Regions from separate parts of the Homo sapiens genome. Here region 2 is linked to region 1. Evidence: fine-mapped expression QTL. A gene starts in region 1. The other region holds a variant in brackets. All regions are shown on one strand. Distances are from middle to middle. Region 1 holds the start of TERB2 (telomere repeat binding bouquet formation protein 2). Region 2 overlaps GOLM2 (golgi membrane protein 2).

Region 1 (2,903 bases):
TAACTAGAAAATCATATGTACTTGGAGATTTAAAAACATTTCACATAATCCACAAGTCACAATACTCATATGGGAAATCTGAAAATACTTTGAATTGAATAATAATAAAAAATGACCTCTTAAAAACATGTGACACACATTTCAAAGGAAATTTATAGCTTTATATGCACATATTAGAAAAATAAAGGATCAAAAACAATTATCTAGTTCAAGAAATTAGAAAAATAACAGCCTTTTTTTTTTTTTTTTTTTTTTTTTTTTTGAGATGGAGTGTTGCCCTGTCACCCAGGCTGGAGTGCAGTGGCGTGATCTCAACTCACTGCAACATCTGCCTCCCGGGCTCAAGCGATTCTCCTGTCTCAGCTTCCCTAGTAGCTGAGATTACAGGCATGCGCCACCACACCCGGATATTTTTTGTATTTTTAGTAGAGATGGGGTTTCACCATGCTGGCCAGGCTGGTCTCGAACTCCTGACCTCAAGTGATCCCCCGACCTAGGCCTCCGAAAGTGCTGGGATTACAGGCATGAGCCACTGCGCCCAGCCTAAGAACAGCAATTTTAAAGAAAGAAAAGTGGAAGGAAATTATAAAGAGCTAAAATTAATGATATAGAAAAGAAATACATGAAGAGAATATCAATAAAACCAGAAGTATGTTCTTTGAAAAGGCTAAAAAATTGACGAAGTTCTAATCAGATTAGGAAATAAAAAAAGGGAAGGCACAAATGACCAGTATCAGAAATGAAAAAAAGATTGTCAGAGAGGTGACTAAAGTAGGAGGAAAAATTTAAAAACAAGGACAAAAAAATGAGAACAAGAACCATGACTAGAGATCCCTCAGATATTAAAAAAGTAAAAGACTTTATGGACAACTTTATATAAACAATTTTTTAATGTTTAAAGGAAGACAACACCAGAAAAATATAACTACTTATCACAACTGATGTAAGAGGTGGGAAACTGTAAAAGGAAAACAATTTTGAGTAAAACAGAAATTTGAACACTGGTGCTATTTGACTATATTAAAGAACTATCTTTTAAGTGTGAGAATGGTGTCGCGGTTGTGTGTATGTTTTTTAAGTCCTCACTTTTCAGGGATTCAAAGTGAAACATTTATAGATGAAATGATGAAATGAATTTTGCTTCAAAAATAATACTTGATGCTGCAGAATCTGCCCTATGCCTGTAAACATAAAGCATGGTAACTTTGTTAATATTTAGGGTTTAAAACTCCCCACCTCAAAATTTAAAACAAAACCAACCAAACAAAAAACCCTCACCAACTCGAGTCGCCGCCCTCCTCTTATCAGGGGAAGGCTGAGAGGCCCCTAAGTGATCCCGAGAACCAGTCAGCTCAGTCTGGTAGTGACTGTCCCTTATCTGAGGGCCTCAGGCCCTTCCCGGCCATTCCTCTTGAGAACCAATCATCGAGCTTGACTTTGGACCTGGAACCAATCAGGGATCTCAGCTCTGCGGCCTCCTCTCTCACATCTCCACAGGCTTGGCGACGCCATGTTTCAAGGGCAGCGCGGTTGGTTTTGCGGCAGCGTTAGCCAGGATCTGAGGCAATTCTGGGGTAGGAAGCTGAGTGGAAGCAGCGGGTTAGGTGGTGAGGGGAGCATCCTCCTCTCTCTGATGCTTTGGGTCCAGGGTGCTTGATAGGTTCACCCTGTGCTCTTACCTCCACAGTGGCTGAAGGGGGAACGATCAGTGACCCGCGAGCCGCCGACTTCTTGTTCAGCTGTGATGCCTCGCACCCAGACACGCTGAGGTACTGAGGGCGACCTGGCAGTGCCTCTTATGTTAGGATGAGCCGGGAGTTAGGGATGGAAGTTGCAGTCCACTAATAAATATTGATGAGGCTGGGCGCGGTGGCGGACACCTATAATCCCAGCTACTGGGAAGACTGAAGCAGGAGAATCGCTTGAACTCGGGAGGCGGAGGTTGCAGTGAGCCAAGATCGCACCACTGCACTCCAGCCTGGGTGACAGAGCAAGATTCCATCTCAAAAAAAAAAAACATAAATAAAGTAATAAAATACAATAAAATAAAAAATAAATAAATAATATTGACGATAGGGTGAGACTGAAAACGAGCAAGTTTTCAGTCCTAGATTTGAGGGAAAGAAATAGACAACCTCCTTTCCTTTCTGCTGCAGTGTCACAGGCTTCTCCCTGGTCCTCGGGCCTCTTCCTGAATTCCAAGTGTGTGTTTCCAGCTGCCTCTTCTACACCCGCATGTAGCGCCTTGAAGGCCCCTCATACTCAATGTCTAAATCAAATCTTGTCATTTCCCCTCATACCTGCGCCAGGGCCTGTGTTCTCCAAAACTTTGAATAACTTTGAATAACAACCCTACGCCATGAATCAGTCAGAGGCCGAATACCATGAATTAGATCCCTGTAATTGTTCTTCATCCTCACTGACACTAACTTAGTAGCACCTTAATTCCGTTTTCGCCGGGACTATCAGAGTAACTTCCTAAGCCGTTACTGTGCCTCGAATCTGTTCCCTGAGATCCCCCTTCGCATGGCTATCAGATTTCGTTTACAAACCAGACATCAGATCAGGGCCCTACCACCCTCCTTTCCTCACTCCCGCCCCCACCCCCAAGCTGCTGATTTCCTACAGATTTAGATCGTGGCTGTGCCTGCCTTGTTTATTTCCCAGTTTTTCTCATGACTTCCGTAGCCCAGTCAACCCGAACTGCCATTATTGTTCATGCATGCCTTTTTCTTGTAATGCTCTTCTTATCTCCACCTATAGAAAAGATGTTGCTTTCTATATGTGAAGCTTTCTCTGACTGCATGCACACTCCTCACCTCAGGATTAATTGATCCCTCTTTATAGCAATGACCATGGATAAGCCCCATAGGCTGCTAGCTCAATCCACTGTTGATGCCCAG
Region 2 (2,914 bases), 650 kb before region 1:
ATCTAGAATAATATTTTATTCATTTAGAAACTCAAAAATATTTTTCTGATTCAATTTAGTGTTTAAGTGAAGAGAACAAAACCTTGGGATTAGCTTCATGGGGATATAATGAAAAAAAGTTTGAGTTATAAGCATAGCTTGGATTTTTGTTTGTTTTTTTTGGTGACAGGGTCTCATTCTGTCACCCAGGCTAAACTGCAGTGGCATGATCATGGCTCACTGCAGCCTTGACCTTCTGGACTCAAGCAATCCTCCTGCCTCAGCATCTGGAGCAGCTAGGACTACAAACTTGTGCCATCACACCTGGCTAATTTTTTTTTTTTTTTTTTTTTTGAGACAGAGTCTCGCCCTGTCACCAGGCTGGAGTGCAGTGGTGTGATCTCAGCTCAACGCAACTTCCACCTCCCAGGTTCAAGCAATTCTCGTGCCTTAGCCTCCTGAGTAGCTGGGATTACAGACATGCACCACCAGGCCTGGCTGATTTTTGTATTTCAGTAGAGACAGGGTTTTGTTGGCCAAGTAGGTCTCAAACTCCTGACCTTAAGTGATCCGCCTGACTCGGCCTTCCAAAGTGCTAGGATTACAGGTGTGAACCACGGTGCCTGGCCACACCTGGCTAATTTTAAAATTTTGTAGAGATGTGGTCTTGCTATGTTCCCCAGGGCTGGTCTTGAACTCCTGGCCTCAAGTAATCCTCCCACCTCAACCTCCCAAAGTCCTGGGATTACAGGCATAAACCACCATGCCTGGCCTATTCAAGTTTTATCATGAGATTGCAGTAATTCAGTCACGTCTTCAGGCTCCACTTCTTTTTTTTTTTTTTTTTTTTTTTTTTTTTGAGACAGAGTTTCACTCTTGTGTCAAGGCTGGAGTGCAATGGCATGATCTCGGCTCACTGCAGCCTCCGCCTCACAGGTTCAAGCAATTCTCTTGTCTCAGCCTCCTGAGTAGCTGGGATTACAGGCGCCCACCACCACACCTGGCTAATTTTTGTACTTTTAGTAGAGACAGGGTTTCACCAGGTTGGCCAGGCTGGTCTCAAACTCCTGACCTCAAGTGATCTGCCCTCCTCAGCCTCCCAAAGTGCTGGGACTACAGGCATAAGCCATCGCTCCCAGCCCTCCAGGCTCTACTTCTATTTCTAGTTCTCTCTCTTTCTCTCTTACTCAGTCACTTAGGCTGAATGCAGTGGTGCAATCACAGCTCACTGTAGCCTCAACCTCCTGGGGTCAAGCAATTCTCCCACCTCAGCCTCCTGAGTAGCTGGGCCACAGGCCTGAGCCATCACTCCTGGCTAATTTTTAAAAAATGGTTTGTAGACCAGGGTCTTGCTATGTTGCCCAGGCTGGTTTCAAACTCCCATACTCAAGTGATCCTCCTGCCCTGGCTTCCCAAAGTACTGGGATTACAGGCATAAGCCACCGTGCCTAGCCTAATTCTAGGTCTCTTGCTATTTGTACCACATCTGCAGTTACTTCCTCCACTGAAGTCTTGAATCCCCTCAAAATCATTCATGAGAGTTGGAATCAACTTATTCCAAACTCATGTTCCTGTTAATATTTTAGCCTTCTTCTATGAATCACAAATGTTCTTTTTTTTGAGGCACAGTCTCTGTTGCCCAGGCTGGAGTACAGTGGCACAATTCATGGCTCACTGCAGCCTTGACCTCCCTGGACTCAGGTGATCCTCCTATCTCAGCCTT[C/T]CGAGTAGCTGGGACTACAGGCACATGCCACCATACCTGGCTAATTTTGTATTTTTTGTAGAGGTGGAGTTTTGCCATGTTATCCAGGCTGGTCTCAAAATCCTAGGCCCAAGCAATTTGCCTGCCTTGGCCTCCCAAAGTGATGGAATTAATGGCCACTGTGCCCAGCCACAAATTATTATAATTTTTTTTTTGAGACAGAGTCTTGATCTGTCACTTAGGCTGGAGTGCAGTGGTGCGATCTCGGCTCACTACAACCTCTACCCCCTGAGCTCAAGTGATCCTCCCACTTCAGCCTCCGAGTAGCTGGGACCACAGGTATGGGCCTCTACACCTGGCTAATTTTTCTATTTTTAGTAGAGACAGGGTCTCCCCATGTTGCCCAGGCCCGTCTTGAACTCCTGAGCCCAAGTGTCCACCCGCCTCTGTCTCTCAAAGTGCTGAGATTATAGACGTGAGCCACTGCACCCAGCCTCTACAAATGTTCTTAATGGCATCTAGATTGGTGAATTCTTTCTAGAAGACTTTCAATTTATTTTGCCCAGATCCATCAGAGGAATTACATCATGGTAGGTATAGCCTTATGAAAGGTATTTGTTAAATAATAAGATTTGAAAGTAGAAATTACTCCTTGCTCCATGGGTTGCTGTTAGCAGACATGAAAAGATTAATGTCCTTGTAAATCTTCATCAGAGATCTTGGGTGACCAGGGACATTGTCAGTGAGCACTAGTATTTTGAAAGGAATCTTTTTTTTAAGTAGTATATCTCAACAGTGAACTGAAAATATTCAGTAAACCATGCTGTAAACAGATGTGCTATCATACAGGCTTTGTTGTTCCATTTATAGAGCGCAGATAAAACAGATTTAGCACAATTCTTAAAAGCTAGGATTTTAGGAATGGTAAGTGAGCGTTGGCTTCCACTTAAAGTCACCAGCTGTCCCTAACAGGAGAATCAGCCTGTCCTTTGAAGCTTTGAAACCAGATATTGACTTCTCTGCAGCTATGAAAGTTCTAGATGGCATCTTCTTCCAATAGAAGGCTGTTTCATTTACATGGAAAATGTGTTGTTTAGTGTAGCCACCTTCAGTGATCTTAGCTAGATTTTCTGGATAACTTGCTGCAGCTTTTTCATCAGCACTTGCCACTTCCCCTTGCACCTTTATGTTATGGAGATTGCTTTTTTTTTTTAAACTTCATGAACCAACCTC

The links.
Region 2: its variant is fine-mapped to the expression of TERB2 in liver (GTEx, PIP 0.96).

Annotation. Positions count from the first base shown.
Region 1 is chr15:44,955,209-44,958,111 of GRCh38, forward strand. It overlaps TERB2 (telomere repeat binding bouquet formation protein 2), which reads left to right and starts at 1,479. Exons shown (of 7, transcript NM_152448.3): 1 at 1,479-1,574; 2 at 1,688-1,769. The coding sequence starts at 1,511.
Region 2 is chr15:44,303,422-44,306,335 of GRCh38, forward strand. The region is part of intron 1 of GOLM2 (golgi membrane protein 2); the gene reads left to right. Among named protein-coding and RNA genes, the nearest start is that of GOLM2, 16 kb to the left of the region's middle. The variant C/T (reference allele first, on the strand shown) is at 1,703.